4 linked regions of the Homo sapiens genome follow. The protein of the gene in region 4 purifies or fractionates together with the protein of the main gene of each other region. This does not show direct contact. Each region holds a gene or a part of one and is shown on either strand. Other genes may lie near its edges. The genes, in order: ATXN2, RGPD3, HELZ and ESRP1.

What was found.
Region 1: the proteins of ESRP1 (region 4) and ATXN2 purify together in Homo sapiens (affinity purification with mass spectrometry; 2 studies listed by BioGRID and IntAct, with this or other methods). This does not show direct contact.
Region 2: the proteins of ESRP1 (region 4) and RGPD3 purify together in Homo sapiens (affinity purification with mass spectrometry; 2 studies listed by BioGRID and IntAct, with this or other methods). This does not show direct contact.
Region 3: the proteins of ESRP1 (region 4) and HELZ purify together in Homo sapiens (affinity purification with mass spectrometry; 2 studies listed by BioGRID and IntAct, with this or other methods). This does not show direct contact.

What each region holds. Positions count from the first base shown.
Region 1 is NC_000012.12:111,484,314-111,491,341, forward strand, and holds part of ATXN2 (ataxin-2), read right to left. Parts: intron 4,468-7,028; coding exon 4,163-4,467; intron 2,512-4,162; coding exon 2,448-2,511; intron 1,553-2,447; coding exon 1,400-1,552; intron 1,019-1,399; coding exon 952-1,018; intron 1-951. UniProt on the Homo sapiens protein: Involved in EGFR trafficking, acting as negative regulator of endocytic EGFR internalization at the plasma membrane.
Region 2 is NC_000002.12:106,458,405-106,465,432, forward strand, and holds part of RGPD3 (ranBP2-like and GRIP domain-containing protein 3), read right to left. Parts: intron 929-7,028; coding exon 861-928; intron 1-860.
Region 3 is NC_000017.11:67,186,195-67,193,222, reverse strand, and holds part of HELZ (probable helicase with zinc finger domain), read left to right. Parts: intron 1-2,867; coding exon 2,868-3,066; intron 3,067-3,526; coding exon 3,527-3,634; intron 3,635-4,606; coding exon 4,607-4,904; intron 4,905-7,028. UniProt on the Homo sapiens protein: May act as a helicase that plays a role in RNA metabolism in multiple tissues and organs within the developing embryo.
Region 4 is NC_000008.11:94,644,174-94,651,201, forward strand, and holds part of ESRP1 (epithelial splicing regulatory protein 1), read left to right. Parts: intron 1-1,994; coding exon 1,995-2,109; intron 2,110-7,028. UniProt on the Homo sapiens protein: mRNA splicing factor that regulates the formation of epithelial cell-specific isoforms. Specifically regulates the expression of FGFR2-IIIb, an epithelial cell-specific isoform of FGFR2.

The sequences.
Region 1 (7,028 bases), on a different chromosome or scaffold from region 4:
CACTATATTGCCCATGCTGCTCTCGAACTCATGGGTTCAAGTCATCCTCCAGCTGGGATATCAGGCATGGAGCCACTGTGTCCAGCCAATTAGTCTGGTTTTTTTGTTTGTTTGTTTTTTGTTTGTTTGTTTGTTTTGAGATGGAGTCTCACTCTGTTGCCCAGGCTGAAGTGCAGTGGCACGATCTTGGCTCACTGCAACCCCTGCCTCCCGGGTTCAAGCAATTCTCCTGCCTCAGCCCCACCTAGTAGCTGGGATTACAGGCGGCAGGTGCCACCATGTCCGGCTAATTTTTGTATTTTAGTAGAGATGGGGTTTCGCCATGTTGGCCAGGCTGGTCTCAAACTACTGACCTCAGGTGATACACCCACCTCGGCCTCCCAAAGTGCTGGGATTACAGGCATAAGCCACCATGCCCAGCCAGTATTTATGTTTGAGACGGGGTCTCACTCTGTCGCCCAGGCTGGAGGGCAGTGGCATAATCACAGCTCACTGCAGCCTCTACTTCCTGGGCTCAAGTGATCCTCTCGCCTCAGTCCCCCAAACAGCTGGGGCTACAGGCATATGCCACCATGCCCAGCTAATTTTTTTGAATTTTAGTAGAGACAAAGTCTCTGTTGTCCAGGCTGATCTTGGGCTCCTGAGCTCAAGCAATCCTCCTGCCTTGGCCTCCCAAAGTGCTAAAATTACAGGTGTGAGCCATCACACCAGGCCTCCAATTACTCTTTTTGAAGAGGATACTATATAATCACAACTGATGGGCATTTTTTCTCCCCTGTTTTTCTTCATAAAATCCATGTGAATATCTATGTAATGTTGTTCATCAAAAGCCAATGCATAGCCTCATCAAAAAGTCAGAGCTAAACTACAACTATTTATTCATTATAAACTTAGTTACTCAATTCATGCAGCATGCAAACTACAAGCAAACACAGGCAGGATTATTCTCACCTTTACCTGCTCTATATGTCTTGGCTTGATTCACTGGCATGGGCGTCATAGGTATTGGGTATAAAGGCTTGAGAGAATTAAAAAAAAAATTAACATTAGGCACCTATGATAATAACAAGGTATTCTGTCACTCTTAGTTTTATATTGCTAGAGAGCTAGGCATGAGAAGGTTTCCTGATTCTCCATTAGTCATTAAAAAATTAGATCATACCCACAGCTAAAAGGAACAAACCCCAAACTACAGTAAATCTAAACCATCTTTTTCACAGAAAACATTCTCAGATTTAGGTCCTCATACTTAACAACACACTGAATCTCTGCATGCCTGTCTGTTTCAAATGCATATGCATAACCATCACACCCTCAAGTCACTGAAAACCTAAAGAGTGCTTGGTGTCAGATACAAACAATTGGGGAGGCTAAGTGAACATCAAATTCTATGACTTACTTGCACGCCTGGGCTCACTGGGACTGGATACATCATATTTGGTGCAAAACAAACAGGCTGAGTATAAACTGGAGTTGGCTGTTGATGACCCACCATAGATGGGCTAGGTTGTGCTTGAGGCCGAGGTGAAGTTGGGGTAGTAGAAGGCTTTGGCTACAAAAACAACAATAAATTCAATTATCTCAAGGTAACAGATGAACTATTATTGCAATTTAAAGACGGATTTTCCCAGTCTTTCTAATTTTACTTGCTTTAACTATGTCCCTTTTATTGAAAACAAAAACACAGCACATAAATTTTCACATTTCAATAAAAGAAAAAATGTTTCAGTAGGAACTTAAAACTTTGTCAATTAAAAAATATTAAAAACAGTGGCAGCTATTTTTAAGAAACTGATGGAAGTGTTTTTAAAAATTAAAAATAAATATATCTTCTTATGATCTCAGTCGAATAATAACAATAGTACAGTCATCTCTTAGTATCTGTGGGGGATTGGTTACAGTACCCTGTGAAGATACCAAAGTCTTGGAATGCTCAAGTCCCTTACATAAAATCATGTAGTATTCGCATACAACCTATGCATATCCTCCTATATACTTTACATCATCTCTAGATTATTTATAATACCTAAAACAAGGTAAATGCTTTACTGTATTGTTTTGGAATAATGACAAGGAAACGTCTGCATGTGTTCAGTATAGATTATCCTAACTATGTTTTTGATCCATGGTTGGTTGAATCCAGTGATGCAAAACCCTCAGGTGCAGAGGACGTATCTATAAACCTGACAGCCTAGCTAGCCAACCATCGTCAAATTCTGGGTCAGAGAAATTCAAAGATTTGCCCAAGATCACATCTAATTGATGACAAAACAAAGACCTTTTTTTAATGTTTAAAAAGTATTCATTAATGGCCATGTAAAAAAAAGAAAGAAGGTTGGTTCAGCACACTAAAACAAAATTCAGATGGCAGGTATGGAAGAAGGACTATTACTAATAATTTTTCTTTTTTTGGGACTAGATAACCTCAAAGAAAGTAATAAACCTACCTGAGAGAAGGAACGTGGGTTGAACTCCTTTGCATTGGGATTCAATGTTGATTTCCTAACTTGCCTAAAAAAAATATAAAGGCCAGTGAAATCTACATGGACTTTACGTTGCTCTAAAATCTTCCATACCTGACAATTTAAAAAAAATTGCTAAATATAGATTTAAACTGTTCTCACTAGAAGATCACTAATCGTTTTTATTGAAACATATACACTTATATTGCCCATTCCTTAATCCCTTAAAGAATACAGCCATAAAAGAACAATTTTTTAAAAATCTGAGTAATATACAACCGTTCCTCTCAAAGGCAATCAAAAAATACTTTTTTTTTTTCCTTCACAGAGTCCCACTCTGTTGCTCAGGTTGGAGTGCAGCAGTGCAATCTTGGCTCACTGCAACCTCTGCCTCCCGAGTTTAAGCCATTCTCTTGCCTTAGCCTCCTGATTAGCTGGGATTACAGGAGACTGCCACCACGCCCAGCTAATTTTTTTTAATATTTATTTTTAGTAAAGATGGGGTTTCACCATTTTGGCCACGCTGACCTTAAGTGATCTGCCTGACTCAGCCTCCCAAAGTGCTGGGATTACAGGTATGAGCTACCACGCCTGGCCAATCAACAAACACTTGAGCTGAAAAGACAGTAGCTACTTATGAAATATCCTTAAAAGCAATTCTTAACATAACAGTATCCTTTTATTTATTTATTTATTTATTTTTGAGACAGAGTCTCGCTCTGTCACCCAGGCTGGAGTGCAGTGGCATGATCTCGGCTCACTGCAGCCTCCACCTTCTGGGTTCAAGCAATTCTCCTGCCTCAGCCTCCCGAGTAGCTGGGATACAGGCACCTACCACCATGCCTGGCTAATTTTTGTATTTTTAGTACAGACAGGGTTTCACATGTTGGCCAGGCTGGTCTTCAACTCCTAACCTCAAGTAATCTACCTGCTTGGACCTCCCAGAGTGCTGGGATTATAGGTATGAGCTACCAGTCAACATACCAATATTCTAGCATGCAGTAATTCTTATGTGAGAAGATATTTTACATGACATACCTGGAAAAAGTCATGGCTGTAAAAAAAAATTGCCTCAAATCAAGAATAAGCAGTCCCCAATTTATCAATAAGCTGCATTCCAAAACTTCAGCTTTAACTGGATTGTTTGGTACCCAAACACCTAAGTCAATGGTAGTTAAGTTCTGAGGTTAGCCCCTAAAAGTCCATTTAATTAATATACTGAATGTGCAGAATTAAGTCTATCTTAACAAATCTAAACATTAACTAAAACACAGTTTCTGATGAAAAATATTTTGAATTCCAAGTAGAAGCACCGCATGCTTCTCTCCTTGACAGTGGCAGTTTTTCAACCTAGCAGCACAGTGAGGGTGACTAATGAGTGGAATCCAGTAAAGATAGGTCCCCTGAATTGATAATTTTTCAACTCCTGTTCATTTACAGAAAAACTTTTCTTAATTTATGCCTTGTTTTTCTAGCCCTGGGGTACAAAAAAGGGGAAGAACAGAAGAGTAGCACAGGGTGCAATAACCTCATTTACTTAAGATGTCATTTGTTTGGACTAGCTGTTTGTAAACTAAGGGCAATGTATAAAGTAGTCTAAAAGTCCAGATGGATTCTTCACAGTTGGAAGGACCTAAATGCCTTTAAAAAAAAAAAAGTTAATTGAGTAACAGGATGGTCTAAGTTCCAGGTTTACTCACTCAGCTGCGTCTTTCTTCTCTTCCTTATCGTCTTTCTCTTGTTTACATGCTGGGCTGGAAGTCTGAACCCCTTGGGAAGTGACCTCAGGTCCCCTCTTGTGCTCCGTGTTACTAAGTATTGAAGGGGAAATGCTGGGGCTATTCGGCTTGCTGCTGCCACTGGTACAGTTGCTGCTGCTATTTTCAATGAAAGAATCCTTAGCACTTGGTTCAATTTTGTCTTTGATCAAATCTCTTGATTTTTCTCCCTCTCTATTTTTGTTTAGTAGTTGATCCATAGATTCAGAAGTAGAACTTGGCTGTAACTAAATAAAGGAAACAATTATACTTAAATATCTTAAATAACTTTAGTAATACATTTTTGCCATGAGCACAAGCTACGTAATATTAACTATACGCATGAAATGTTCTGAATAAGGCTTTTTTCATACTTTAAGAGTAATGCTTTTACTATAAACTAACAATAACAGAGTACCTATATAGCACAACCACAGTCACCAAAGCACTCAAATGTCCTAGCCTCTAAAGTTCAATATTTACTGAGTGCTTACCACATGTCAGAAATTGTGCCTGCTGGGTGAGAAAAATATGAAATAGTTTCTATCCTCTTATACTTGTCATTTAAATAAGATCAGACACTTCACAATAAAATGAGTAAATGCTAAGAGAGTCTATAGAAAAAGCAACCTATAAAAAAGAAAGGTTTCTCAGTAAAGTGTCAGCTAGTCTAAGGTGTGAAAGAAGTTTAGGAAAGGTGTTGGGATGGAGAATAGTCTAAGTAAAAGGAAGAGTATGTTTAAAAATCCAAAGAAAAGGGAGAAGCTGGCTCTATCACATAAAACAATAGCACCAATGGGGGCCGGGCACGGTGGCTCACGCCTGTAATCCCAGCACTTTGGGAGGCCAAGGCAGGCGGATCACGAGGTCAGGAGATCGAGACCATCTTGGCTCACACGCTGAAACCCCATCTCTACTAAAAATACAAAAATTAGCCAGGCATGGTGGCAGGCGCCTATAGTCCCTGCTACTCGGGAGGCTGAGGTAGGAGAATGGTGTGAACCTGGGAAGTGGAGCTGCAGTGAGCCAAGATCACGCCACTGCACTCCAGCCTGGGTGACAGAGCGAGACTCCGTCTCAAAAAAAAAAAAAAAGATAGCACCAATGAGCTGGGCACAGTAGCTCATCACTGTAATTCCAGCCCTTTGGGAGGCTGAGACAAGCAGACTGCTTAAGCTCAGGAGTTCAAGACCAGCCTGGGCAACATAGTGATACCCTGTCTCATTTAAAAAATAATAATAAAATAAAATAAAATAACAAAAATAAAGAAGTAAAGAAAAGCACCAATGGCTGGACCAAGGGTGAGACACACATGTACAAGTGAGTCAGAAAATGATAGACTCGTCAAAAGGAATATGACAATAAAGGAACTTAAAAGCTATGTTCAGGGCTGCGTGCAGTGGCTAACACCTATCATCCTAGCACTTTGGGAAGCCAAGGCAGGTGGATCACTTGAGGTCAGGAGTTTAAGACCAGACTGGCCAACATGGTGAAACTCCGTCTCTACTAAAGATAAAAAAAAAAAATTAGCCAGGCGTGATGGCACACGTGTAAATCCCAGCTACTTGGGAGGCTGACATATGAGAATTGCTTGAACCCAGGAGGCGGAGGTTGCAGTGAGCCAAGATCACACCACTGCACTCCAGCCTGGGTGACAGAGCAAGACTCCATCTAAAAATTAAAAAAAAAAAAAAAAAAGTTTTAAAAAGCTACGTTTAGGACTTTGGCTTTTAATTCTCAGGGCAAATGGGCAGTCTATACGGAATTTTAAGTAGGGTAGAGTACTGGGCAGATTTATAGTTCAGAAAGGTGAACACAGCAGCTTTGTGTGAAATGAACTGGAGGGAGGCTAATTAGGATGTGGAGGGACCGTCATGGAGGCTGGACTAAGCGCTGGGCCTAGTCAGCTTGGAAGGTCATTAAGTAGGTGAATTCAGAATGAGACCTGACTGTACATATTGGTCAGTTAGACATTCTAAACCCCTAAGTAAAAAAAGGAGATGGCAGGGGAGAAGAGACAGAGCATGGTGGCCAAACAGAACCTTCCAGTGATCATCCCCAACAAGGAGCACCAAATTGAACAACTATCCACACAAGAAAGCACCTTCATAAGAACCAAAAATTAGGTAAGCGATCACAGTACCCAGTTTTGACATCCTATCAAGGAAAAAGACACCAAAAAAGATAAGGAAGATAGTCTTGAACTGCCCCTCCAACACCCCTGACATTCCCCCACAATGCAGTGTGGGGTGGAGAAAGAATCTGTGTGCTCGGGGGAGAGAGAGAGAAATGACTGTGGGATTTTGCATTGAAACTCAGTGCTGCCCTGTCACAGTGGAAAGCAGCATAGGACAGAATTCAGCCAGCACCCACAGAGGGAGTATTTAGACTAGCCCTAGTCAGAGGGGAATTGTCCATCCCAGTGATTAGAATCTGAATTTCGGGCTGGGCACTATGGTCTGTAATCCCAGCACTTTGGGAGGCCGAGGCGGACGGATAACCTGAGGTCGGGAGTTCAAGACCAGCCTGACCAACATGGAGAAACCTCATCTCTACTAAAAAACAAAAAAATTAGCCAGAGGTGGTAGCGCATGCCGGTAATCCCAGCTACTCAGGAGGCTGAGGTAGGAGAATTATTTGAACCCGGGAGGCGGAGGTTGTGGTGAGCTGAGATTGCGTCACTATACTCCAGCCTGGGCAATAAGAGCGAAACTCTGCCAAAAAAAACCAAAAGAATCTTAATTTTGGTAAGCCCCACCACCGTGGGTAAAGTCCTCTGGGGTCCTAAATAAACTTGAAAGGCAGTCTA
Region 2 (7,028 bases), on a different chromosome or scaffold from region 4:
ATCTTCCTTTGGATGCCTTTAAAAGCCTGCCTCCCAGCTGGGAGCAGTAACACACACCTGTAGTCTCAACACTATGGGAGGCCGAGGCAGGCAGACTGCTGCGCTCAGAAGTTCAAGACTAGCCTGGGCAACATAGTGACACCTGTCTCTACCAAAAAATGCAAACCTTAGCCAGGTCCACGTGGTGGTGCGCATCTGTATCCCCAGCTACTTGGGGCGCTGAGGTGTAAAGATCTCTTGAGCCCAGAAGGCAGAGGTTACAGTGAGCAAAGATGGAGCCAGCTGCTGCACTCCTGCCTGAGCAAGAGAGACAGATACTGCCTAAAAAAAAAAAAAAAAAAAGCCTGCCTCCCTCTTAATTTCCTGCTTTAATCCACTCCCAGTCAGGAAATCAGAATCACCAAGCTTCTTATCCCTAGGATAGAGCCTTAGAGCATCACATATTGTGTCAATTAAACATCTTTTATACAAGCTATTCTCCTGCCTTACAATTACAGTTTAATTTTTTATTCATTGCTATTTTCCATCTGATTAAGGTATCAGATATCTAACCAAAAACAAATTAAGATATAGGCATGGTCCTCTTTTACTTCAACAGAAGACAATTTTTAGAAAAAGTGTTTTAAGCCAAACAATTTCTTGCCCTTGGTATAAAGCAGCAGCATGCAGAAAACACTAATTACGGTTTCAATCTCAATGGAATCTAGGCTGGTCCTTAGCATCAGTCTGAGTGATAAATCCCTTATTCCAGAATACACTTAGGAAGAACTACTAAGGATATATTTTTACCTATTTCAAAGAAGAAAATGAGAAAAGGCATTGATTTTAAAAAAAGAATACATGTTACAGTTTGTACTTACTTTTTAGCAAGATCATATTCTTTAGCTTCATAATACAGCTTTGCAAAATAGAATCCTCTCGTTGACTTCTAAAAAAAATTAAAAGTTGTTTTACGTTTCATACAGAAATATTTTCCAACATTTTTTCAAAAGTAGTAAAAATCTGCCCTAAGTTTATGTTCAAATATGCCATTTTCATTCACTTAAAAGTTTTTTTTAAAGCCTGACAAATGCATAATTCCATGTTTTATAATTTCCTATCACAAAACAAAAAATAGAGCTGGGTGCAGCGGCTCATGCCTGTAATCCCAGCACTTTGGGAGGCCGAAGTGGGCGGATCACCTGAGGTCAGGAGTTTGAGACCAGCCTGGCGTTATAACATGGTGAAACTCCGTCTCTACAAAAATAGAAAAATTAGCCAGGCATGATGGCGGGTGCCTGTAATCCCAGCTACTCGGGAGGCTAAGGCACGAGAATCAGTTGAACCCAGGAGGTGGAGGTTGCAGTGAGCCAGAGGTTGCAGTCAGCTGAGATTGTGCCATTGCACTCCAGCCTGGGCGACAGAGACTCCATCTCCCAAACATCATCATCATCATCATCATAAATAAGCTGGGTGCAGTTGGTCACAACTTTAATTCTATTTAATTCTAGCACTTTCAGAGACCAAGGTGGGAGGCTAGCTTTGAGGCCAAGAGTTTGAAACCAGCCTGTGCAACACAACAAGATCCTGTCTCCAGGGGGAAAAAAATAGCCAGGCATAGTGGAGCATGCCTGTGTTCCTAGCTACTCAGGAGGCCAAGGAAGGAGAATCACTTGAGCCCAGGAGGTTGACACTGCCGTGAGTTATGACTGTGACACTGCACTCCAGCCTGGGTGACACAGGGAGATCCTCTCTCTAAATAATAAATACATAACATACAAAAAATAAATTCAAGAAAGCAAGACAAGCAGACAACAGAAGTTAAGAATTTTCATCAGCCTTGGAAATCTTGGAAACCCTGTGGTACCACTCTCTCACTTAACAAACAAAAGAAACCAGCTTTCTTTGGGGAGGAAAGGTATTCCAGAAATCTCTTCTCCTACCATGTGTAAAAGCCTCTATGGGAAAGAATAAGTAAGTACTTAGGATCTATTAAGGCACTGAGGATTCCCTGTGCCTCAATAGTACATGTACTGTTCTCTCTACAGATCAGATCAGTATTTTACAGTCAAGGAGTCAAAAAGGCAGAAATAAATATTGAATTCTTCAAGTAATAAACAAGGTCCACAGCCTGGCTCCTTGGTTACATAAACTCCAAAGTCCAAAATGCTGATGCACACCAGGCTGGGTGCGGTGGCTCACACCTGTAATCCCAGCACTTTTGGAGACTGAGGCAGGTGGATCACTTGAAGCCAAGAGTTCGAGACCAGCCTGGCCAACATACAGAAACCTCCTTTCTACTAAAAATACAAAAATTAGCTGGGCATGGTGGCACACGCCTGTAATCCCTGCTGCTTGGGAGGCTGAGGCAAAGAATCGCTTGAACCCGGGAGGCAGCAGTGGGCCAAGACCGCACCACTGCACTCCAGCCTGGGCAACAGAATGATTCCATCTCATAAAAAAAAAAAAAAAAAAAAAAAAAAAGCTGATACAACCAGAGTATGTTCCATCCATGTGATACAGAGTATACAGCTACTCAAACATCTTATTTTTGAAATTCCAAGACCCCAGTGAATGTCCAAAACGATGAATAGTACCAAACCAGGTTGCCATCAATCGAAACATGTTTCCTGTTTGTGTCCTCCACCCACAAATTTAATGTCTTGTCCATCTCAACTAAGCACTTATCACACACTGTGGCTGTAACTTTTGCAGTTTGGGGTGTCACAACAAAACTAGCACAAATTTCTTTTTCTTTCTTCACAATTTCATGGACAAAAGATTTGTTCTTACCATAGATCTTAGCAACCCCAGTATATGATCTTTTTTCTTTCCTAAGTCAAAAACTCACCTCTTCACTTAAAGGAAGCACTATATGGCTTCTCTCTGGCATATGTGAACTGCCAGCATCGCTACTCTTGCTCTTTGGTGCCATTTTAAATAAAATAAGGGTTACTTGAACACAAGCACTGCAATACTCCAACAATTGATCTGATAACTGAGATGGCTAGTATGTAACTAGCAGGTGGGGAGCACATACAGCATGAATATGTTGGACAAAGGGATGACTTGTGTCCTAGGTAGGACGGAGCAGGAGGCCGTGAAATTTTTATCATGTTATTCAGAACTGTTTGCAATTTAAAACTCATGAAATGTTTATTTATATAATCTTCCATTCAATATTTTTGGACCACGGGTGACGCAGGTAAGTAAAACCACGTAAGGCAATACTGTGGATAAGAAGGGACTACTGTACCAGCAACGAACAATCAGAAAAGGAAATTAAGAAAGCAATTCCATTTACAATCGCATCTAAATGAAAAAAATGCCTGGGAATAAATGTAAACAAGGAGGTGAGAGACTTGTATGCTTAAATTACAAAACGTTGCTCAATGCCAGGCTAACACCTGCAATCCCAGCACTGGCAACAGAGCAAGACTCCATCTCAAAAAAAAAAAGAACTATAGCAATCTTAACAAAAATAATACACAACAGTCAGGACAGCACGTAAAAGAACAAGGCTTGTTCCCCCCTTCCTTTTTTTTTTTGAGATGGAGTCTTGCTCTGTCACCAGGCTGGAGTGCGGTGGCTCGATCTCAGCTCACTGCAACCTCTGCCTCCCAGGTACAAGCTGGGACTACAGGCGCACACCACCATGCCCAGCTAATTTTTGTATTTTCAGTAGAGATGGGGTTTCACCATGTTGGCCAGATGGTGTCGCTCTCTCGACCTTGTAATCTGACTTCCTCCGCCTCCCAAGGTGCTGGGATTACAGGCGTCAGCCACGGAGCCCGGCCAGTTCCCCCTTTTCAAAATGAAGAAATAGATTCAAGGTACAATGCCAAAACATAATAGAAAAATAATTCCATTACCTTCTTTGCTTCCAACTATGTTATTAAAGTAGACAATCTTAAGATAATTAAACAACTTTACAAATTATTCTTCTGTATGATCTTTTGCCTCTAACCTGCTCACTTTACAAGGGAACTGAAGCTCAAGCAGGCAAATGCCTTGTTTAAAGATATATAGCTAGGAAGGAGCACAGCCCATGTTATGTAAACAGGACAATATCTGATTCAAGCAGTACTTCTTTGCATGACAGCAGATGTCACTATAAGCAAATACCTGAATTCACTTAAGCTGCCAAATATCAAGAACTGATGCAGGGCTGAAAACAGGAACAGTAAGACCCTAAGAGATGCCACATCATCGCTATCTTGCACAGTAAGATAGAGATGTAATTGTAATTGTCCAAAACTTAACATTTGTGGCCTACTTTTTCATTATGCAGTTCTGAATTTCTCTTTTTTTTTAAATTCAAACGGAGTCTCGCTCTGTCACCCATCTTGCACAGTCAAATGAATCTCCCTCCCCCTAAAATCCTCCAAAAAAGCTGCTGTTCTCAACAAACCCATCTGATCAGCTCCAAATCTGTGGAGTCCCAACAAGGGTGAAGGCCGTGATTATACAGGACAATGAGGAAAAGTCTAGATACTGAACCATGAGTTCCCCAATCTTCTTCCCCTGGAACATAAGGGTAAGGAAATCTCTCAAAAGGCAGAACAAACAAAAGAGGAGAATAAGAGAAAAATTAGAGAAACTCCAGCTTTCAGGTAAACATCATTAAAAAAAAGGGTAAGAAATGGTCAAAGAAATAATACAAGAAATGCTACAGAACTGAAAGAAATGAGTTTCCCAATTGAAAGGACACTTTCAGAAAACCTTTGTTACCAAGAACAAGAATCTCATCAGACTCCTAACAACAGAACTTCTAGAAAATGGAGCAATGCTTTCAAAATTGCGAAAAAAATTATTTCAAACTCAGAATTCGATAACCAAATGATCAACTAAATTAAGTAAAGACATTTTAAAGACATACCATTAGTTTCCAGACCAGCCTGACCAGTATGGTGAAATCCCATCTCTACTAAAAATAGAAAAAATTAGCCGGGCATGGTGGCGCACACCTGTAATCCCACTACTCAGGAGGCTGAGGCAGGAGAATCACTTGAACCCGGGAGGCGGAGGTTGTGGTGAGCTGAGACCATGCCACTGCACTCCAGCCTGGGCAACAGAGCAAGACTCTGTCCCAAAACAAAAACAAACAAAAAAACCTCTCATCCACTTTTCCTCAAAGCAAGTGAGACTATGCTACACCAAAACAAAGAAAGTAAATGAAGATGACATGAGATACAAGAAACAAAGGGTCTAACTCAGAAAAAAGATGAAGGGAATTCTCAAACTGGTGATAAAGGGAAGTCCCAAGAGCACAGCTGTGTAGCAAAGAGGAAGAAAACCCAATCCAGGTTGGAGAAGTCGGTTAGTAAGGGTATTCCAGGTAGACAATCAATCAATCAATCAATGTTTTAAGCTGAAATTGAACGGATTATGTGACCAGTTTGACCACATTTGAGGGTTTAAGTTGCTGAGTTTAAGTAAGCAAGTAGTAACACAACATACAAGCAAACCAAAAAATAAAGCAATTATTCAGTCCAGGAAAAACAAAACTGCACAACAAGGGCAATTCAAATGCAAAATATTTACCTTATATTTATATAAATGTTAAATATTCATTTAAACAAAAACTGCAATAACAGTACTGAAAGAATGAGGGGCAAACCAAAGTGTCTGAGGACAGTTTTGGAGGAGCATAATAGCCAGTACAGAATGTCTAAAATGGGGCCCGGCGCGGTGGCTCACGCCTGTAATCCCGGCACTTTGGGAGGCTGAGGCAGGCGGATCATGAGGTCAGGAGATCGAGACTATCCTGGCTAACACGGTGAAACCCCGTCTCTACTAAAAACACTAAAAAATTAGCCGGGTGTTGTGGCGGGTGCCCGTAGTCCCAGCTACAGGCTGGGGCAGGAGAATGGTGTGAACCCGGGAGGCAGAGTTTGCAGTGAGCCGAGATCGCGCCACTGCACTCCAGCCTGGACGATAGAGCGAGACTCCATCTCAAAAAAAAAAAAAAAAGAAAAGAAAATGTCTAAAATGGGAGAAAGGGAATTAAAAATAACAAAAGTATATATGTGTGTTACTCAGAAGTATGAAGTATAGATGTAAAGGGCAGAAAAAACAACTAACAGCTGTCAAAGGTGCCTGCCTGTAGTCCTAAGTACTCAGGAAACAGAGGTAGGAGGATCATTTATGCCCAAAAATTTGATGAGCAACACAGCAAGACCCTATTCTAAAAAAAATATAAATAAAAATAAGAGCTGTCAAGTAGACTTTGAGAAGTAGGAATCAGCTGCAGAATAAGAAACCGACTTGACAGAACATAGAAAAACTAAACAGAAGCCATCTGGAAAAAGAAAAACTAGAGAAAAAATTATATATTTTTTTCTTTTTTTCTTTTTTGGAGACAGAGTCTCGCTCTGTCACACAGGCTGGAGTGCAGTGGTGCAATCTCTGCTCACCACAACCTCTGCCTCCAGGGTTCAAGCAATTCTCCTGTCTCAGCCTACCGAGTAGGTGGGACTACAGGCGCTGCCACCACGCCCGGCTCATTTTTGTATTTTTAATAGAGATGGATTTTCACCATATTGGTCAGGCTGGTCTCTCGGCCTCCCAGAGTGCTCAGATTACAGACGAAGAATATTTTTAAGAAGGGCAAAAGCACATGTGAGGGAGTAGAAAAATGGCAAAACAAGAGGAGACTAACAAATGAAAGCACAATGGAAGACTAGAAAGATATGATATACAGACGCATCATCACACTCCAAAACTCCGACATTCTAGAAAGCATGGGCAGTTCACAGATGGCCAGCCTCTGCCAAACTGGGGGAGAATACTAACCTCTTCATATTCTTCACAGCCACTGCCTCTTCTCCCTCCATTCTTTACCTTCTATCCAAAGCACCCTGTTTTGTCATTTCACTCAAACCTAACTTCACAGAATAGCTTCACATGTTCCAAAGTTACTCACTAGTTAATCCATATTCCGCTGAAATCCCCAGGTTCTAATGTAAATGACTTTCAATTTGGGGGAAAAAAAGACTCTAAGTGTAAGAGAGGTGGTCATAATAACCAATCGTCAAAATCTTGCCACC
Region 3 (7,028 bases), on a different chromosome or scaffold from region 4:
CAGGCGTGTGCCACCAAGCCTGGCTGATTTTTGTATTTTTTTTGTAGAGATGGGGTTTCACCATGTTGCTCAGGCTGGTTTTGAACTCCTGAGCTCAAGCAATCCTCCTGCCTTGGCCTCCCAAAATGCTGGGATTACAGATGTGAGCCACCACACCTGGCCATGGCCATTTGTTAATGTGAAATTTACTTAGGTTGTGGTGATTGAAGTTGACAATACTTTATGTAAAAAGTAGAGCATAAAATAGATAAAGAAATGTTAAATTGTTTTAACCTTTCTGAAAAATATTATCTTCATGTAATTCTTATGTAGAATTTATGAATAATTCATAATGAAGGGCTAACCTTTCAAAATTTAATAATTATTTATTAATGTGGAAGGAATGATTAAAGTTACAGTTAAAATGGTAAACTCTTCGGTTCTTTTTGTAAGAACTTGTAACTAGTGGGATTTTTAGATATAAATTCTCACCGCCTCTTTAGATTACTTTTGATAGCGAAGGAAATTTGCTACATGGTTTTGATTATTGAATAGTCAGGAAACTAATGTGTAAGTATTGAAAATCCTAGTGGTGTTATGTTGTAGAAGAGACAGAACACAATCCTATGAAAAGGAAATATGAGAAGATTTGAAGTACAGATAAGAATATAACACTTTCACTTTTTAGGGAAATAATTTAAAGCCAAGCAATAGAAAGACAAAGATTTGGCCCATTAAGACATATTGAAAAGAAACATAAAATGATTTTAAATGTGTCTTCAAAAGTGTAAGAGAATTTAATAAATAGTATAATTTTAAGTTCAAGTACTTTGTTGTACCATCAGGAAAAGTTTTAAATATACTCATTTTTTCAAATACGGTGAACCATTTGAAAATTCATATTGTGCTGTGGTTCATTTCTTATTTCTTACTATCCATATTTTTTCCAATTGAAAAATGGTCTGTAATATAACATCTCTCTTTTGCTATTTATAGTTTTATATTATATTTACATTTAATTATGTATTTTTTTTTATTTTTGAGACAGAGTTTTGCTCTTGTTGCCCAGGCTGGAGTGCAATGGCATGATCTCGGCTTACTGCAACCTCCGCCTCCCGGGTTCAAGCGATTCTCCTGCCTCAGCCTCCCAAGTAGCTGGGATTATAGGCATGTGCCACCACCCCGGCTAATTTTCTATTTTTAGTAGAGACAGGGTTTCTGCATGTTGGTCAGGCTGGTCTTGAACTCCCGACCTCAGGTGATGCGCCTGCCTTGGCCTCCCAAAGTGCTGGGATTACAGGCGTGAGCCACTGTGCCCGGCCATTTAATTATATTTCTAGTTTAATTTTCATTTTTTCTCAGAAGATCTTTTATCAATGTTTTTATTATTTTTATTTAAAAACTGGCTTTGCCTATAATTTTGCAGGGTATTTAAAACTTTTTTAAAAAGTTAATGCCATCTCAAAAAAAAAAAAAAAAAGTTAATGATCAGGGCCGGGCATGGTGACTCATGCCTGTAATCCCAGCTCTTTGGGAGGCCAAGGCAGGTGGATCACTTGAGGTCAGGAGTTCGAGACCAGCCTGGCCAACATGCAACCCCATCTCTACTAAAAATACAAAAACTAGCCGGGCATTGTGGTGGCAGGCACCTGTAATCCCAGCTACTCTGAAGGCTGAGGCAGGAGCATCCCTTGAACCCGGGAGGCAGAGGCTGCAGTGAGCCGAGATCGTGCCACTGCGCTCTAGCCTGGGCAACAGAGCGAGACTATCTCCAAAAAAAAAAATTATCAAAGTATTTTATTTTTATCTGTTTTTGGTCACTGAATTGTCAGTTGAATTTTCCGAGTTGTAAACGTCGAGAAATCATTGACTCTCTGTCCTTTAAAATGAACATTTATAATTTATTCCCTTGAATTTAACATGACTGTTGAATAAATTTGTGACTCTGTAATATAAAACTTTGATTCTAAATTTATTTAAAGCTTCAAGCAAGTTAATATATTTTCACTGAAATATAGGTAATAGTAATGTAGAAAAGAGTAAAATCACTATGTTTAAAGGTGAAAAGTAAAAGCCTTAAAATGGTAATTAGTCATATGTTAACTGTTTTTTCAGAATGAAATTCCCATATATAGAAAATTTTTTTAAGGTCCTTATCATTTTGGGAAGTAGGGTATACCTGTGTGTGAGCAGCAAATCCACTTGATGTCAGTATTGCTTAAAAAAATCCTACTCTGGCTGGGCGTGGTGGCTCACGCCTATAATCCCAGCACTTTGGGAGGCCGAGGCGGGTGGATCACCAAGTCAGGAGTTCAAGACCAGCCTGGCCAAGATGATGAAACCCCGTCTCTACTAAAAATACAAAAACTAGCCAGGCGTGGTGGCGGGCGCCTGTAATCCCAGCTACCCGGGAGGCTGAGGCAGAGAATTGCTTGAAACCAGGAGGCAGAGGTTGCAGTGAGTCGAGATTACGCCACTGCACTCCAGCCTGGGCAACGGAGTGAGACTCCGTCTCAAAAACAAAAAACAAAAAATCAAAAACAAAACCCAGTTACACTAAGAGGAATTGTCTAGTAAGAGTCCTTATATGACCAAGGAAGCTACTTTTCAGTGCCTCTTTTGGAGGGCCGACGTGAATACCTATGCCTTAGGATCCCCTAATTCCAGAGAAAGTCAGTGAATAATATGGGGAGCTGATGTTTTGGTTAACTGTTGTAAATGTTCTCTAAACCTCTTCTCCCTCCTTTGTACAAGACAGTACGATAAATATGGCCTTTCAGCACATGAAGTTTTGTTTTTATTGAAGAATCAGAGGGCAAATGCTGGGAGTTTATTTTTAAATGGTTCAACAAAGTATATGATAAAACAGTCTTTCCTATTCTACTTAGATTTTTAGAACAAGGAATCTGTAGGTATGGTGCCCAGTGTACTTCAGCACATTCCCAGGAAGAACTAGCAGAATGGCAGAAAAGATATGCTTCACGGCTGATAAAATTGAAACAGCAAAATGAGAATAAACAGCTCTCAGGCAGTTACATGGAAACCTTGATAGAAAAGTGGATGAATTCATTGTCTCCTGAGAAAGTGGTGAGGAAAATAAGCTACATTATTTTTTGTTTGTCTTAAACAATGAACTTGAGTCTTGACTTTATTGTGTGCTCTATTTTGGTTTATTTCCTTATCTTCTTTGCAAAGAACTTGATTCTGATAGAATGATGTTTTTAGTAGCTATAGTAGACCCATTTGTTAAAATGAAGAGCAGAACTAAACCACTTGTTTGGAGATTTGCCTGTACTGTATTAATTACCTTCATTCAGGCAGTTTTTGAGTGCCATTTTTGTGGTGGTGGTTAATTTTCTTTTCTCTCTTATTTTAGCTTTACTATATTTTGTTCTTGTCAAAATTACTGAAAATGAAGGTATAAAATACTTTGGTCTGTAAACAGTTCCATCATCATCTTAACTGTTGACATTTATTTTCCATGCTAAAAGATTTTGTTTGTGCCCTTAGCAATAAAAACATAACATAAATTGCTGTCTGTTTTCAGCTTAGTGAATGTATAGAAGGAGTAAAGGTAGAGCACAATCCTGACCTGTCAGTTACTGTCAGCACCAAAAAATCCCACCAGACATGGACCTTTGCTCTCACTTGTAAGGTATGAATTTTGTGCTAGTTAAAGCATAAAAGTTGTGTTTAATTTTCTGAACGTTTTTTTGACCTTTGAATCTCTGTGTTAAAGAATATTGAAAATATTTTAATCTAAGTACATTATATATAGGTTCTATATTGTACTAAAGTATATTTCTGTACTTTGATCATTAAAAGTACAATTTTAAAAATACTTTTAGATGAGATCTTTGTAGATATTTAGGGTGCTTTCATATTTATTTATTTGGTAAAGAGATCTTTGACATATTGTCTTCTAAACTTGGGACATAGGATGGGGTTCATGGCTTGTAATTAACTACTTAAAAATTGTTTATTCTAGTAGTTCTAAGATTTTTAAACCATAACAACTTGTTTTTATATTTGATATGATGAAGTCACAAATTCTGTGATAATGGGTTTTTAATATGGGGCATTTTCTGCAGTGCTTCCCATCTTAAATTATAGTAGTCAAAGTTTAAGATCGAAGCAAAGTAAAAAGTTTCTGTGAGTATGCTCAGTGGAAAAGTTTTTGTCTTTTTTGTGGCATTTCTTCTGCTGTACTTTCTGTATCTGGAGATGAAAAATCTAAGAACAGTTAGCTTCAGCCTTGAACCCAATCCAGTGCTTTCAGAGGTAACTGCCCTCTTACGAAGGCTTCCTACTTGAGGCTACATGAAACTTCTGTAGGTGAAGAGTATGGAAAGTTTGAAGGTTGATGGTTATATAGGGTGATAGCTTTTGCCACAGTGAAAAATGAACATGTCACAGGAAGAGAAGGGAGGCTAGCGATATAGCATAAATAAATAATTTTAACAACTGATTTTAAAAAACCATTCTGATTTTTTTCTTAAATGGCTATAGTATCTTAGAAGCTTGGGGAAGTAAAAGTCCCTTATGGAAATATTTTCATTGAAGAGCCCAATTACAATTGGATTTTTCACCCCCTTGTACTCAATGAATTATTTTAACTTCCTTGTAGCCTGCAAGAATGCTGTATCGTGTAGCATTGCTTTATGATGCTCATCGTCCTCATTTTAGTATCATTGCAATATCTGCCGGAGATAGTACTACCCAGGTATCACAAGAAGTCCCAGAAAACTGTCAAGAATGGATAGGAGGAAAGATGGCCCAAAATGGATTAGATCATTACGTGTATAAAGTCGGGATAGCATTTAACACAGAAATATTTGGAACTTTTCGCCAAACCATAGTTTTCGACTTTGGATTGGAACCAGTACTCATGCAAAGAGTAATGATTGATGCAGCTTCTACAGAAGGTAATATTTAGACTTTTTTCCCCCGATACAATGTGTTAAAAAGCAACATTCAAAGATATGTATTGGCCCCTGAATATATTCCATGGATAGGAAGAGAATAGTAATAAAGAAAAAAATCCCAACTTAATTGACTCATTTACTGTGTAATGGGCTTATAATGATTCACACTGTGCCCTGATTTCTTCACAGAGCCACCAGGTAAAGCTTGAACTTTGAGGTTCCCCAAACTTGTATGAGTAGATGATCAGACCTGTTTTGGTCTACCAGTTTCATTTCACAGTAAGATGGTTTTAGCACAGTAATATCTTTCAATATTAGTTTGGGTAGAATATCATTTTAATGGTAATTGTGTATATACCTACAATGTTTATTTTCATGTCCTATTGACTAGTTAACTTTGCTGATGTTAGTACATTGTTTCTGAATGAAAAGTCTTGAGTATAATAAGCCTTCATAAATCAGTTTGTGCATCCACTAGTGTTAAGGAGGCCAAGGGTGCCTTTAATCAAATCTGCTCTTTGTTTTTGGGAAGAGGTCCCTGGTTTCATCATGTAAGCATGACATAAGGAATTACTTTGTACATTGTCAATTTATTGCCTATATCTAAATTTTATGCCAAGATCCAACAGGACAAAGAAAGGACATGTTAGCCCACATTTCCTTTGCTCTTGGTTGGATTTATAGGTGTTCTATTCTATTTAACAAAAACTTTTTATTTAACAAACACTTCAAAAAGCAGAGCTGTGTGAAACTTGCTTTTGTATTGACTATAACTAACCATATTGTGGAGGACGTTTTTTACTATGTACCATAATGTCCCATTCATGAGAACCTAGAAGTAGTTTTTCTCATTAGCGAATGCTAGAATTTTATTTTTTTTCACATAGTGAAAAGGTGAAATTGGTCTGTCTTCCTCTTTACTTTAGCTGCTAGTAAGGTTGAAACAACGATGGTGCCCAAATTTAACAGTTAGGTGACATCTTCTTCTACGTGTGCTAAGATTACCCAGACTTCACTTTACCCTTATTTCCCACTGACTTTGATCCCTTTTACTTGTTTTTATTCTGTAGTATGTATTTTTGTCATCTTTTCAGTACTCTTTGGAATCAGAATAAATTAATTTCCATAGCTAAATAGATATGGTAGTTGATAAAATAAAAATAAAGTATTTGGCTTATATATATTAGCATAGTATTTGGCAAATTCTTTCTGCAGAGGGCCAGACGGTTAATATTTTAGGTGTTGCAGGGCAGGTGATCTCTGTTGCAACTACTCAGCTCTGCGTCGTAATGAGAAAGCAGCCATAGACAATGCATAAGCAAATGGGTGTGACTGTGTTCCAATAAAACTTTATTTTCAAAAACAATGGCTACATTTGACTTTCGTGTTGTAGTTTGCCTACCCCTGAACTAGTAAGTTGCTTTTAGAGACCAGACCTTGAGAACCACTAAGCAGCATCCTTTTTAAATCATAAAGAGATTTAAGTCATAAAGAGAGAACAACATACATTTCCTACTCTCAAATATAACTGTAAAGGATGTTCTTGGCTTACATGTGGGTTGTATTTTAGAAATTTGCTTGTAGGTTAGTGGCTTATAACTCAGACTCCTTTACCCATAGAAATGTTTGTAAGTGCTGTCAAGAATTCTTATTAGTTAGTAAAATATTTAATTAATAATATAAAATGTTAAATGTCTGCAGTAAAATGTAAAAGAACGATAGTATTAAAACATGATAATTAGAAAAGGTGGTGATGAAAAGGAGCTCAGGGTACTTTCATAGGCTTGAGAAGAGTAAAAGTACTTTGACTACTTCTGCCTCAGATACGAGTTACTTTTCTTGTTGGAGAAGAGCAGAGGACAAAAATCAGAGTCAAATAGAATAGGATTTGAATCCTGATTTTCGACTTATTGCCTGTGTGAGCCTGGGCAGAGTACTTAACTTCTCTGGGCTTCACGGGGAAACATCTGTAAAATGGGGCTAGTAATACCTGTCATAGATCATTGTGACAACCTGAAGCCTCGTACGACATCAGGCTCATAGTAGACGTTTAGTTAATAGTAGCTATTATGTTTATAATTAGCCTTGATTAGGATAATTTCTGGCTTATACACAAAAGGAAGA
Region 4 (7,028 bases):
AAAAGGAACAGCAGAGACAACCCACCCAGTGTAGCCAATCATTGTTAATACACTGTCTCTTAACAACTTAAATTAGTTTGAGCTGTAACTTTTTATTGTGGTAGGCAGGCACCGAGCTTGAAAAGATGGAAGTAGAATATATTTAGGTACCTGTATAAGGCAAGGCTTGCAATGAAAGATGTAGACTGACAAATGACGACCCAGGCAAGTAAGTGCAGATTTTATTTCGTTTAATATATTATGACAATTCAAAAAGTTTGAAGGAGTAACTCAAGTTGTTATGTCTTCAGAAAATCATTCCTTTTATACGAGTCTTAGTAATTATTTGACAAAAGGGGAAGAATTTTTTTAAAAAATTAAATGCTAGACTAGTCGCTACATCCTTACCAGAAATAGTAATATGTAAGGATTACTTTTTTACTCCCAAACTCACATGACGGAAGGACAAGACTTAATCTTTTCCCTGTTGGGCCAGAGGAAAATAGCTGTTTTCATTATTTAGGTGGAGTGCTTTGGGTGTAGGAAAACATCTGGAGAAAAATTAAGACTTTTTCCTCAGCCACAGCTATTAGAATTTTGATTAAATACAGAAACTAAAACAATTAATGTTATAGTGAAAGTAATTCTGTATATTCGTTAAAGAAAAGGGAAAATGGCAAAACATGAAATAATCCTGCCACTCAATATATTAAAATGTTTTTCTCTAACATGAATGTATTTGGATATATTCTTCTAGATTTCTGTAGACAAGCATTATTTACAAAGAGCATTCATACGGCGTAAGCCTTTTAGCCTACATTATTTAATAGAACATCAACATTGTTATAACCACTAAATAAAATACTCAGTATTTTAAATGGACACAACAATTTAAACTGATTATTGTTGAACATGTGAGTTATTGTCCTTACAAATAGCTTTTAAATGAGCATTTTTGTAGGTAATAGGGAGGTTTCATGGTTCTTTTGGTTGTTAACTTTTTTAAAAGCTGTGACCATGATGCAGCAATACTGATTTCAAAATACAGCATGAACAGGTCACATCTAGTAAAATCCAATAGAAGGAACTTGGAGAGGAGATATTTTGCATGAACATTTAACATTTAAAAGTCTTAATTTCCTTGATGTTCTAATGTAAAAATGGGTAAAAATTCCCAGCAAATTAACACAATTTCAAAATTTTAAGAAAAATCTGAATTGAGTTTTTAAAAGGATTATCTTTAAAAGTTATCCAATGCTGGGTTATTTTGTTAAGAAAAAAAAAAACAAAGGAAACAATAGTGTAATATTTGTCCAGACAGTTGAGCTTTGCTTCGTAGCCACGGTAGTGGTCCTAATAGCTAAGAACAGCAGGTAACCATTTCTCCTTTGCCTTTGGGATTTGTGAGTTTGTTTTTGTTTGTGTTTGAAGTCTAATTTGAGTTCACAGGTACAGCTACAATATTGTTCAAGAAGACTAATGTGGGACTATTATTTGGCACAGAAATAAGCCTTTTCAGTTAATCAGGAATTTACTATTCTAATCTCACTTATTACTGAAAATATGCATTATTAGAACCCAATAGTTAGAACTACCCAGTTTTACAATCTAATCCCACACCTGTGTGAAAACTGAAAGGGCTGCTAGTGCTGCCTGAAAATACAGATGTTCTAAAATGGTTATGGCTGGAAAAAATTAGTATTAACAGCCAGAAAATATGAAGTATAACAGCACAAATGTATCACAGCTTCAGAATTGTTTTGAATGGAATGCATACTGGAGCACAAACATTGTAATCCACTGCCTTAAAACAAGAGGAATTTTTTTCATGAGACTTGTACATAGGATCTAATATAGAAACAGGACCAACTTTTAAAAATAAATCTACTTTTACATTAAATTTTAAATTTTTCCATTGTAAAATATGCTTATATTCAATTTTTAGGTTCCTAATTGTGAGAGAAACATTGAACCAAATTCACCTAGTTAACATTATCTACCTTGTCCTTCCTCAGAATGTACTATTACCTGAATGCTTCTATTCCTTTTTTGATCTTCGAAAAGAATTCAAGAAATGTTGCCCTGGTTCACCTGATATTGACAAACTGGACGTTGCCACAATGACAGAGTGTATCCTTTAAATCATTACTCAAGAATCATTTGAAAAGATAGTTCCAGAAAAGGTAATTCAAGAAACTTTCAAACATTTTAAATTTTGTCAGCATATGGATAAAATTGGCCTATCCAAAATTTGTTTACTCTGCTGAGAAACTAAAATACAATTATAGACATCTTTGAAAGTGGTTATAATTAATCAGATGGTTGGACGGATTTGGAGATGGATTTTTTGGTGGGGTGATCACATGTAGAATAGGATTCAGTTTCAGCTGTGTAATGTGTGTGTGTGCTGCAGAAAGAACATGAAGACTTTAGTGCAGATTCTAAGGCCACTTTTTCTTGGTTACTGTGATTTTAGGGTTTATTTTGGCTTCTTTGGAATGAAGTCAATAATTTTTTTAATTGGTGGATATATCCCCTTTACAAACTGCTGTTCACTGGTCCCGCTTTTAGCCTCCCCTGAGTTTTTCAAATACAAGATTATGCTGATTATAATAAGCCATCTTTGGAGATGATAAAATGGGGTCTGGATTGTCCCCCACATTCTTTAGTTACCAAAATAATATATTTGATGCATGATATATTGTAAAAGTAATTTTATAATTACAAATCTATAATCATGAATGACCCGTCATCTTACATTCATTAAGTCTTTCAAATGCTAACTAATAAGCAGGCGTGTGCTAATATATCAGATGTAAAGTTGAGTAATTGTTACCTTGAGTGGCTTCCCAAAAGCCACTGTGAGAGTCATCATGAAGTTAAAACTAAGTTAACTTCAGTAGCTTGTGGGTTGTAGATGCTTATTCCCAAACTTTCTCATTCATTTTCAGGAATTAAAACCTGGTTTTTGTGTTACTTCACGATTTTTTTTCCTGATTGAAGTTTGCTCGCATATATTTCATAACTACTTGTAAACAGGTCAAATCCGTTTTCATTTGCCTTCTTCTTGGAGTCAGTTAGCTGGAATTTTGGCTTAGCATGACCAGTAGTGTTGGGAAGAGGGTGGAATAAGCTCATTGTGACAGAATTCTTACAAGAATTTTGTTAAAAAGGTTAGTACACCAGAAAAATTCTCACTGGTTTTTCTGTTGGGTTGAATGTTGTATTAGACAGCTCAAGCTTCCATAACAAATACCATAGACCACGGAGCTTAAACAAAAGAAATTTACTTTCTCACAGTTCTGGAGGCTGGGATGTCCAAGATCAGGGTGTCAGCATGGTCAGGTTCTGGTGATGGCTCTTCCTGGCTTGCAGGTAGCCAGCCACCTTTTCTGGGGGGATAGCAGGAGGAGTTATCTTCTTACAAGGTCACTGCCCTATCTAATTAGACCCCTCCACCCTTTGACCATCATTTAAACTTAACTTCTAAAGACCCTCTCTCCAGATAGTTACATTGGGGGTTGGGCTTCAACATAGGACTTTGGGGGAGGTGGAGGACACAATTCAGTTCTTAAGTATATATTAAACTTTTTAATGTGGATAGTTGGTCTTCCACAAAATAGAGAACCAGAGTACCTACTGAAAAATTAGAAGGCAGTGGAGGAAAAATCTAATAAGCTATCTTAATTTAGAAAAAGACAACTTCTGGCTGGACATGGTGGCTTATGTCTGTAATACCAGCACTTTGGGAGGCTGAGGAGGGAGGATGGGTTGAGACCAGGAGTGCTGACACCAGCCTGGGCATTATTGCGAGAACCCATCTCTACAAAAAGTAAAATGAAATAAAAATATTTTAACAAACGAAAAAGATAACTTCAGTAGGAAAGGAAGTATATTAAGGATTGTTGTGCCAGGGCAATATAGAGAAACCCCATGTCAACAAAAAATAAAAAAATTAGCTGGACGTGGTTGCATGAGACTGTAGTCCTAGCTACTTAGGAGGCTGAGGTGCAAGGATTGCTTGAGCCCAGGAAGTCGAGGCTGCAGTGAGCTATGATTGTGCCACTACACTCCAGCCTGGGTAACAGAGCAAGACCCTGTCTCAAAAAAAGTGGATTTTATTCTTAAATGTTTTAATATTTAATATCGTACTTGTACATGTCTTTCTCATTTAACAAGTTAGAAATGCTAATAAGCTTTCTTAGCAACGGTTTTTATGTTATATTGCTGCTGTGGTGAGTTATTTTATGACTACTATTCAGAGGAATACTTATTTCCCTGTCTAGGCTACCAGACCAATTTCTGAGGCTAAAAGCAATTATGTCCAATCTGAATATCAACTTGTGCTCATCTATGCAAAGTATTTCTACAATGTCTGAATTGAATTGTTCCGTTCTTTCAGAGCATTAAACATTTTCCTTGCCAATATGGAAGTGACGCTGAATTGGGAGATCTGTAGTCATTAAACATTCTTGATGGTTTTGCCAAGTGGACAGAAGGTCATTTGCTCTTGAGGAATTACCTGTTTCACCTGGTAAACCAGTGGGGGAGGGAAAGGGGCTTCTGTAAACACCTGGAGAAGAGCAGATAAGAGAATGTGCAGGTTGAAGTGTTTAATTTTTTTTGTCGTGAAATACTTGTATCCTTGATTGGTTGTTTTAAACGAGGATACAGAAATATCAATTTGGACCCTCAGTGATGTCACAATATTCTAAGTGTTTTGGAAACATGCTTTATTAACTTTACATCCAAGTAAATTTAAAATTTTTAACAAAAATCCATTTTTGGCTGGGCACGGTGGCTCATGCCTGTAATCCCAGCACTTTGGGAGGCCGAGGCAGGTGGATCACTTGAGTTCAAGAGTTCAAGATCAGCCTTGCCAACATGGCGAAACCCCGTCTCTGCTAAAAATAGAAAAATTAGCCGGGCATGATGACGCACATCTGTAATCCCAGCTACTCAGTAGGCTGAGGCAGAAGAATCACTTGAACCCAAGAGGCAGTGAGCCGAGATCATACCATTATACTCCAGCCCAGGTGACAGAGTGAGATTTAAAAAAAAATTATTTTTCAAATTTTGGAGATGGGTCCTCATATTTTGCCCTGGCTTCTCTCAAACTCCTGGCCTCAAGCCATCCTCCTGTCTTGGCCTCCCAAAATGCAGGGATTATAGGTGTTTGCCACCATATCCTGGCCTCATTTATTTTTTAATTAGTAGGCTTTATTTTTTTGAGATGTAGTCGTGCTATGTTACCCAGCCTGGTCTCAGACTCCTGAACTCAAGCAATTCTGCCTCAGCCTCTTGAGAAGTTTGGATTACAGGTGCATCTGCTATACCTGTAATCTCAACTTTTTATTATTATTATTATTTCTTTCTTTGAGACAGAGCCTCCCTCTGTTACCCAGGCTGGAGTGAAATGGCGTGATCTCGGCTCACTGCAACCTTCGCCTCCTGGGTTCAAGCGATTCTCCTGCCTCAGCCGCCCAGGTAGCTGGTATTACAGGCGCCCGCCACTATGCCTGGCTAATTTTTGTATTATTAGTAGAGATGGGGTTTCACCATGTTGGCCAGGCTGGTCTCCAACTCTTGAGCTCAAGTTATCCACCCATCTCGGCCTCCCAAAGTGCTGGGATTACAGGCGTGAGCCACTGCACCCGACCCCAACTTTATTTTTTAGACCAGTTTTAGGTTTAGAGCAAAATTGGGCAGAAAGTATAGTGTTCCTATATAACCCTTGTTACACACATACATACACACTCTCACTCACTCCCCCACTGTCTACATGCTGCACCATTGAGCAGAAAGTATATTGTTCCTATAGAACCCTTGTTATTCTCTCCCTCTTCCTCTCCCTGCTCCTTCCCTTCCTCTCCTTCTCTCCCCGTGCCCCCTCACTGTGAAAGTGCTGTACCAGAGTGGTACATTTGTTACACCTGATGAGCCTACATTGACATGTCAATATTACCCAAAGTTCATAGTTTACATTGGGGTTTACTTTTGGTCTTGTACATTCTATGGATTTTGACAAACGTATAATGACATCTATCTACCATTGTGGTATCAAAATACATTGTAGCAATAGCATAGTATAGAATTTTTTTGTTTGTTTTGTTTTTTTTTACCTGCTACCTTAAAGTCTTTTATCCCTAATAGAATAGTTTTATTGCCTTAAGAATCCTCTGTACTTTGGCCAATCATTCCTCCCTCTCCCTTAACCCCTGACAACCACCAATCTTTACTGTCTCTGTAGTCTTGGCTTTTCCAGGAGGTCATATAGTTGGAATCATGTAGTATGTAATCTTTTCAGATTGTCTTTTTAGCCGGTAATATGCATTTAAGATTACTCCATGTCTTTTTGTGGCTTTATAGTTCCTTTTTAGCACTGAATTCCATTGTTTGGATGTATGGTTTGTTTATCCATACACGGTTTGTTTATCCAAACATGGTTTGTTTATTCGCCTACTGAAGGACATCTTGGTTGCTCTCAAGTTCTTGCAAATATGAATAGTGCTGTTATAAACATCACGTGCAGGTTTTCATATGGACATAGGTTTTTTAAATCATTTTTATTTTTTTTTGAGACGGAGTCTTGCTGTATTGCCCAGGCTGGAGTGCAGGGGCGCGATCTTGGCTAACTGCAAGCACCGCCTCCAGGTTCACACCATTCTCCTGCCTCAGCCTCCCGAGTAGCTGGGACTACAGGCGCCCGCCCATGGCTAATTTTTTGTATTTTTAGTAGAGACGGAGTTTCACCATGTTAGCCAGGATGGTCTCGATCTCCTGACCTCGTGATCCGCCCGCCTTGGCCTCTTAAAGTGCTGAGATTATAGGCGTGAGCCACCACTCCTAGCCTAGGTTTTTTATTTATTTTGGTAAGTACCAAGGAGTGTGACTGCTGGATCATATGGGAAGAGTGTCATTTTTTATATCTCACTGCAATTTTTGTGTTTAAGGCAGACTTTTTTCCAGGGGGAATGGTGAGGGAAAGCAATGAGGCCTTGCATTTAAAAAAACAGTATGTGGAACTTGAATAATATGCAGTATTTCAA